3 separate regions of the Homo sapiens genome follow, and regions 2 and 3 are each linked to region 1. Evidence: fine-mapped expression QTL. A gene starts in region 1. Each other region holds a variant in brackets. All regions are shown on one strand. Distances are from middle to middle. Region 1 holds the start of MCMBP (minichromosome maintenance complex binding protein). Region 2 has its middle 23 kb from the start of MIR4682. Region 3 overlaps MCMBP (minichromosome maintenance complex binding protein).

Evidence for each region. PIP is the estimated chance that this variant, and not a neighbour inherited with it, causes the effect.
Region 2: its variant is the best candidate, but not a certain one, in a credible set for the expression of MCMBP in whole blood (TOPMed, PIP 0.53).
Region 3: its variant is the best candidate, but not a certain one, in a credible set for the expression of MCMBP in tibial nerve (GTEx, PIP 0.65).

Annotation. Positions count from the first base shown.
Region 1 is chr10:119,871,764-119,874,525 of GRCh38, forward strand. MCMBP (minichromosome maintenance complex binding protein) reads right to left here and starts at 1,080. Exons shown (of 16, transcript NM_001256378.2): 1 at 764-1,080. The coding sequence starts at 821. RefSeq lists a silencer at 535-1,184 and enhancers at 1,415-1,574, 1,440-1,609.
Region 2 is chr10:119,979,921-119,982,682 of GRCh38, forward strand. No RefSeq gene overlaps it. Among named protein-coding and RNA genes, the nearest start is that of MIR4682, 23 kb to the left of the region's middle. The variant A/C (reference allele first, on the strand shown) is at 1,247.
Region 3 is chr10:119,829,494-119,832,255 of GRCh38, forward strand. MCMBP (minichromosome maintenance complex binding protein) reads right to left here. Exons shown (of 16, transcript NM_001256378.2): 15 at 2,519-2,607; 16 at 1-2,107. The coding sequence ends at 1,981. Among named protein-coding and RNA genes, the nearest start is that of MCMBP, 42 kb to the right of the region's middle. The variant C/CTGTT (reference allele first, on the strand shown) is at 1,408.

The sequences.
Region 1 (2,762 bases):
AATGGAACGGTTGTCAAAATGCCCAGTTAACGACAACAAATATAAACTTTTCTTCGTATACCCTTCGCAGTAAAGTAGCAACAGCAATCGCAACCAAAATTTACTAAGCTCGCCTGCAGGATTCTCAGCCCTGTGTACAAACTCAAGTAGCTCAATATTTCTTGCTGGCTCTGGCACAGGAGCAGATCCAGACTAGATGGGTTCTAAAGTCATCCCAACAGGAAAACTAAGCTATGAACATTAAATCTTATCTCTGAAAGAGAGAATGAGGGTAGCACAGGAGTTAGAACCAACTTCTGTGCAAGCGAGCACTCCCCGACGCACCGGAAGTTTTGAAATATCCTGTGGGCTTCCCACAGGCAAAGTGGTTTTCCCTCCCCGCGGCTCTGCGGGCCCTCCCCAGGGTTCGAGGACCTCCGAGTTTGCTGCGCCCGGGGCCGGGGCCCTGGCCCTGCCACAGGCTGGGAGCGAGGCCGTCAATCACAGCCCGCGAATCACAGCCCGCGCCCCACGACTTCACCTTGGCGGCTCCCAAGCTGCGACTCGGGCAGGTGGGAGGTACCTGCGGCCCGGCTCCTGCCCCTGCCTGCTGCGACCGGGGGAGAGGCTGTCCCAGCTGGGGCCGGTGCAGGCCCCGGGGCCCCGTCTCGGGCCACGCGAGCCCTCGAGATGGTACCGCGTGGGGGCCGCGCGGCGGGGCCCTGCCCCGGGGCCCGGCAAACTCGGCTGCCCGCCCGGCCCGCCCCCCGGCGCCGCCACTCACCGAAGAATCCCTGCACGATTCCCAGCGGGTGGCTGAGCCAATCCTCCCCACACGGCATCTCGCCAGGGGCCGGGGCCGGCGAAGACCGGGCGGAGGCGATCCGCGGGCCGAGCGCGGCCGGGCGGCCGGCGCCCAGCTCCTCTTCAGCGGCTCGGCCGCTCCTCGCCCGCGTTCGCTCGCGCCCTCCCACGCACAGCGAGCCGCGGGGCGCGGGCCTCCCGCGCCTCAGGGAGCGGCGGCTGCGGTGGGGCCGCCGAGGAGCTGCTGGCGACAGTCAGGCGGGCGCGTACGGGCCCCTAGCCTTCACTTCGCACAATGGCGGGAAATAGCCGCCGCCGACCGCGCTGCCTGCGACCTGGGTGGAGCTCGCGTGGGGAGGGGCGGCGGGAGCGCGCGGCGCAGCGCGGCTCTGCGCGGCGAGGAGGAGGGGCGGCGGCGGCGCCGCCATCTTGGAGACGGGCAAAAGGAAGGGCACGCAGCGCCGCTGGAGGCTGCGCAGCGCGGGGCCCGGCGACGCGCTCCAAGGGCGGCGCGTTGTCGTTTGTACCCCTGGGCCGGCGTGTAGCGGGAACTCCCATAGTGGGCTTATAAGAGGGCAAAGCGAGTCTGCACAACAGCTGAAAAGCATTAAGCTCAGAGACCTCAGAGTCATCTCTGGGCAAAATTAGTGGGCGAAACCGCCTTGGGAATCCGCCCACCTCCTCTTCGTGCCTTTTTTTTCTTTTTTTGCTGATGGCAGCACTTTTATTTGGGTCCCCGGCCCGAAACCCTGAGTGGTGACTTTTCCCTCAGCTGCACAAGGTCTCCCTGAGGAAGGTGCACATTTAGAGAAGGGGAACCTCGGAGGACCCCACGCTCCTTCTGCAGTCGCGTCAGGCCCTGTGGCTCAGGGACGGTTCCTTACCGAGGGGCGGGCGCTCTAAACGCTCCGGGCCCGGCCTGCGCCCTGGTTGCGAACACCGGGTCGGCGTCTGTCTGGAAGCTGGCAGCCGCCGTCGGGGAGCGGTGCGAGGCTCCTGCACTGCGCGCCGCTAGGATACCCTGGAGAAGGAAGCTACGAAGACCGACTACAGCAGCCTTTTGCTGAGGCAATTTGGAAAATACCCAAGTTCAAGAGTGAAACTGTGGGAGTCGCTCTGAACCTCTTCTGGTTCAGGAGGCTGTCCGATAAAAAAGAAAAAAAGAATGAAACTGTGTCTCCCCTGGGCCTGAAATGTACCTAAGAAAACCCCAGGCCCATCAGATATATCTACTCAATGAAAAAAGGGCATGGTGACGGAAGGGGAATGACCTGAATGGAATCTACAAAGTGAGGAGCTGAAGGAAAAAAACGGAACCCGTGTCTCAAACCCTCCTTGGGGCTGTAGGAAGGGGGGAAAATCTTTCTACCTTTCTAGGTTCTCCACTGCGGCCCTTATCACAAAGCTCGGATTGGCAAAAGAAAAATTTAGTAACATGTACATCTTATATGGGCAAAACTCAAGGAAGAGTAACTCAAACAGGTGGCTTAGAATGGGGGAATTACGTAGCATTTACAATAAAGAACAATAACTGGGGAGAAATGGCGAAAGCAGTTTGAAGTTTCCAAAAACAGCAGAGTGGGAAGGCAGAGATACGAGAAACTAATGGTAGTTACAGGTAGTGAGTAAAGTGTGTTATGTAGGTTCTTCTAGCGCCATCGCTGGCTGATAAGGGTCTAAAGTTGTCTCTGGTGACTAACTTTTGTCCCTGGTAGAAAGAGGAGGTGGGACACCTTTGAAAATGTATGTCCTGCTCTTAGGTACATAGTGGAAGGGTAGGGAGCTTGTTTTGTACAGATGCTCCTCTACTTACTCTACTTAGGATGGAGTTACATCCCAATAAACCCATTGTAAATTGAAAATATCATTAGTTGAGGCCCAGCGTGGAGCCTCACTCCTGTAATCCCAATACTCTGGGAGGCCAAGGCGGGCGGATCATGAGGTCAAGAAATGGAGACCATCCTGGCCAACATGGTGAA
Region 2 (2,762 bases), 110 kb after region 1:
TGGTTGGGTTGAACTTTCCTTGCATTTGTCTCTATTGGTAAAGACATTCTCATACATACTAGACTAGACTCCTATTGGCTTCCAATGAAGACTTTCTGGCTGACATCTCTTAATTCTACCATAGTTCTAGAAGCCACACGTTTTCAATTTCAGCATGTCCCAACTGTGGTATACATTGCTATAAGTATAATAAATAAAATCTTAGAGAATACATGAATAGTTTTAAAAATTTAAGTGACTATGTATTTATTTTAAAGATAGTTTTAAAAATATAACTAGCACCCAAAACCAGTGAGTTCAAAGATTTTATGTACTCCTTTTGAAATAAAGTAGATGATTTAAATCAGATTATTAGGTAAATAATAGTTCGGGTGATACATGAATATGGAAAAAATCATGCAGATGGTGGAGAAATAACTGAAACATGGGAAACTGTGAATTAATGGAGTCCATTTGAGTCTGTTGGGGTGATACTATTTCTTAACTTTATAAAATTTCAATCAGACTTGGATTAGATGGACCTGAAATGTCAACATAGATAATCCAAATTATTTTACATCTTGACGATCCTGAAGAGGATGCCAAATCAGCTGTTGATTCTAGCTTCCCTTTTGTCCTCTGCTGTACTTTAGGTTTCATTTCTACAGGGCACCTTGTTTTATGTAATAGTGTAGGCTCAGGAGTCAGACTGTCAGTGCTTGAACACTAACTCCACCACCTATTTTTTGTGTGAACTCAGAAAACTTATTTAACCTCTTCGAATCTTGTATTTCTTACATGTAAAATGGGGGAAAACAGTACTTAGCTTGTGAAGTTCTCCTTAAGATTAATACATCAAAACACATCAAGGAACTATCACCTCAGTAAGTACTGAATAAATATTAGCTATTATTATTTTATGTCTGAAAGGTTGTGTAAAGATAATGGTGTATGTCGTGGGTAAGTGGCAACTCTCTGGGCCAATGGTGTGGGTGGTGGAAGAATTTAACAAGACAGTTGCAGTTAAAGAAAGGCAGATTTATTAGAAAAAGTATGAAAATACATCCATGCATTAAAAAGGTGTTGTAGTAAAGAAAAATATGTTGCAAGAAAGCAACAGGCAAGTCAACATGAGAGGAGCTGACTGTAAGGAGACAAAGGCTTGCTGGGAATTTTATAGAATGGTGCCTGGGCCGTGTGCTGAAGAGGGCTTTGTGCACTACTGGTAACGCCAAGGTTGCAGTGAGCTAGCTTGCATTTTTGTATC[A/C]GCTGAGGATCTGGTGACAGCTAGACACAGGAAGATTGTGTCCTGGACCATGAAGAAAGGCAGACTTACAGCTTATCTGCTTTTTCTTTTTTGCTTTCCCCTGCTCCCACCAGCCTGACTCCTCTTCCCTATTTAGGACTCCACTGTTTATCCACAAAATTCCATTTATGATGCTACAAAAGAGTTTATTTAAAAGAAAAACTAGTGAGTCCCATTGTGAAGCAAATACTGGCATTATTTCACAGTAATGAATTACTATGATATGTACTGCTTTTTAAGGTCTGTGCTGTTGACTAGGCTAGGTTTAAGTTGAAGATGTTCTTAGAGACATTTAAGTCCCATAAGGTTTGAAAGGCATTTCTCTTCACGGTTTTCACCATGACTTGGCACAAAGAAAGTCCCTTTGAAACGTAATATAAATGAGCTCAACATTCTTGAAGCCAAATATTCCTAACTGTGTATGGAAGACTTTAGACTGGCCATAGGTCCAGAAAGAGAACTTTTTTGGAAATCTTTCAGAAGAACTCAAGGTTAAAGCTCTTGGAAACGAGTTTTTTGTTTTCATTCTCTTTAGCACTGCCTGAAAGAAGAACTTTCATTCTTAAAAAGGCTTGTAATTTATCGAGTCTTCTGCAATTAAGAATGTCATATATTCTCACTTGGAGAATATTTTGATTGCAGCTATTTAGGTAGGGCTGTATGTAGAATCACAGGATTCTTAAAGTTGGAAAGAACTTAAAATATTGTTGAGTTCTCATCTCTCTCCTGTTCCTTCTCTCTTAGAGCCCTAGAAATGTTTACCAATTTGTCCCAGTTTGCCCAGCGAGTTGGCATCAGTGCCCAGCTAGGAAACAAATGCAGATGACTCAGCAGGGTCCCTGACTGAATTCCTTTCATGGACAACAGTAAGCCTCTGGAGGAGGAGAACAGCATCCTGCTCACCTTTGTTGATCTTAGTTTCCCCTTTTTATCCTTGGCTGTACTTTAGGTTTCATTTTTATAGGACAAGTCATTTCATATGACAGTGTAGGCTCAGGAGTCAAGCTGCCTGTGCTTGAATCCTGGCTCTACCACCTATTTACTGTGCGAACTCAGAAAATATATTTAACCTCTTTGAGTCTCATATTTCTGGTTTTTGTTTTGTTTTGTTTTCTTTTTTGATACGGAGTCTCACTCTGTTGCTCACTGCAACTTCTGTCTCCTGGGTTCAAGCAATTCTTCTGCCTCAGCCTCCCAAATAGATGGGATTGGAGGCGCATGCCACCATGCCTGGCTAATTTTTGTATTTTTAGTAGAGATGGGGTTTCACCATGTTGGCCAGCCTGGTCTCGAACTCCTGACGTCAAGTCTCGAACTCCTGACCTCAAGTGATCAGCCTGCCTTGGCCTCCCAAAGTGCCAGGATTACAGGTGTGAGCCACCATGCCCAGCCAGAGTCTTATATTTCTTACGTGTGAAATGGAGGTGGGGGGAATAGTACCTAGCTTGTGAAGTTCTCCTTAAGATTAATAAATCAG
Region 3 (2,762 bases), 42 kb before region 1:
GGGTTACACAGGAGTCTACTCAGTTTCCTGGCCATACAGGATTAACGCTGTGCCTTACGTTAGAGCAACAAACTTGACTGTCCGTGTATATATAGGTGAGGGACAAAGGGTTTCTGCAGCCAAGCACTGCACTCCATTCCGCTGCCTGGGCGGGCCTTGAGCAGGAAGGTCCCTCTTGCACCACCTCCTCCACTTCAGTTCAGCTCTCTCATGTCTTCCACCAAGAGGACATGGTCTTTTTCCACACAGATCACATGGGATGGTGAATCTTCTTACTCATGAAAAACAGCCCAAGGTACTGCTAATTTGGGACGTTTTATTTATTGGAAAGGTTCTTTCAAGGGAACTTTTCTGCAAGACCAAGCAATGTATGTATTTTTCTTTGGTAAATTACAATTTACATTGGCACAAAAAACACATGGTGACTAATGTACTTTGCTCTAGGACAATTAAAGAAAATGTATTTTATCCTCACAAATCCAGTGAAGCCTTCATTTTATTTCTAAAAGTTTAAGGAAGGTCTAGTCTACCAGTTATAAAAATGAAAACCAGTTCAACTCTAATATAAACATTATTTACATTTGTTTATAAAAATAGATTTGAGTTTAGGAAAAGTTGAACAACTAGTTATTTTTACTTCAGTTATTAGGTACAATGAATTCCTTGATTTTTCAAGGCTGACCCTGTTTCCTTGGTTAACAATTTCAATTTAGGCCTTATAGGAAAAAACGTAAGGGATCCTTTATCTGCCTCCAACTAGGTAAGTTATTTGATACCACTGACAGCTTAAAAAGTAATGTCCTAACCTTTCTGAAGATTCTGGTTGCCATAACCATGCTACTACAGTCTGTTGTTAGTTTGCTCTATTAAAACTAATTGGTCTGGAGAAAACCTACCTGCAGTTGTACGAGGCTGTTACTGGAGTAGCAGATGTTAGCTGATCTAACATACTTGGAACCAACTGATGATCCCATAAAAAATGCCAAAAATCCAATAGAATCAAAGCAACTCAATGACATTTAAGAAAATAAAAACTTTCTAAAGGGGGTATTGCTTTTTAAGTTTCCTATTTTGTTTTCATATTTGGGCACAGCTTTGTAGCACAGCATTCCCTTATGCATGGTTCTCAAATGCACTGGGATAGGAGAAAATAAAGACAATGTAGTGTCTTGGTTTCTTTTGCCCCCAAAAGCCACATTCATTCCGTTTAAAGGACTCCTCTTATTCAGAGATAGATTGTCCTTTCCTTTTATGAAAAAAATGGTGATAATACAGTGATTTATTCGGATTACTTGGCAAGGTAAATTGGCAACCTTATAGTACCCCAGATTTTTGGAAATATTACTACCGGTCCATAAAATACAAAAGTCTGGGAACCACTGCCATGTACAAGTTTAGTTTTGCAGG[C/CTGTT]TGTTAACAAATGTTAAGTGGGAAAAAGTTTCTGTGGCCAAACATCTGGGAAATGACAGTACAGAATTTCATGTAGTCATGTGAATCAATGGCAAGTACGCCTCCGTTCCCCAAAGATGGACTACTGAATGCACCCCAACCCACTGTGAACTGGAAAAACAGAGAACTAGAAAACATAAGAAATCCGAAGCACGATTCCTCTGACTTTGAAACTGCAACAACCTTCTTCATTTCAGCATTTCAACAGTCTGGCCTATGACTCAGCTGAAGCTAAGGAAATGGTACAATCAGCAACATTATCAATATTAAACTTTTAATATCAAATACTTTTTTTACATCATTACTAATTTATATAATTATTATAAAACAAACTTCAAAAGCTCCATGAAATCAGTAAGGTAAAAGTCCTTACTGAATATCATATAAACATCAGGTGTTACCAGGCTTGATTTCAGGAAATGTCACTGGTTTGTGATAGAAATTACCTATAAAACAATGTGGTATAAATGAATATCTGAATTTTACAATTATGTGGCTACAGTTTGCCCATTACTCTTCATAGGTATTACATCTTTAAAGTTCATTTCCATTCACACATTTTTGCTGCTGAAGCCTCGTTCTTCTTAAAGACTCTAGCTGCTTTGCTCTCAGCCATCGTTCTCTTGACAGCGTTGTCTGACCAGCACTGAGAGACAGACACCTGGTTTGAAACACAGAAACAAATTTAAGTCTAGAGCTGGGATAGTAAGTTTTAAATTTTTTTTAAGACCTAGGAATACTTTGTGAAAACACAGAGCACGTTAGGAGACAAGACCGTATGGTAGTTACACACAAGTCAACAGCCAAGTTAGGCTTCTAAAAAGAAATCGTTGAAGAGTCAGAATTGGAAAGTGGCTCACTCTTTGAAGCTTAGAGAACAAGCAGCATGCCTGTTCCACTGAAGAGATCACCAGCCAAACTCGATTCCCCCTCAATGAGCCCTTTCATACAGCGTTTTTAAAAGGAAAAGTTCATTTCCGTTTTTAGAATTCTGCCTCAGTTACTGCTGAATAACTCAGAAGACATATACACAAGCTTACCGAAACAGCAATAATGGACGTGCGCCACTTACCGAGCCACCACGAGCAGCTGGTGAAGATCATCAGCAGTGATGCTCTGAGGGTCGTTCTTCCGCATTTCCACAAAGTCATCTTCAACTGCCTTTATCAAAAGAGTAAATGTAAATGATGTGCATTTTTGTAAGGAAAAGAAAATTAACATGGTTCCTTGACTGATGTAGTAAGGTGCATGTCAGCCTCTTAGACAAAGGAGGCAATATGGGTGAAAGTACCAAAGCATATACATACATAATGCTG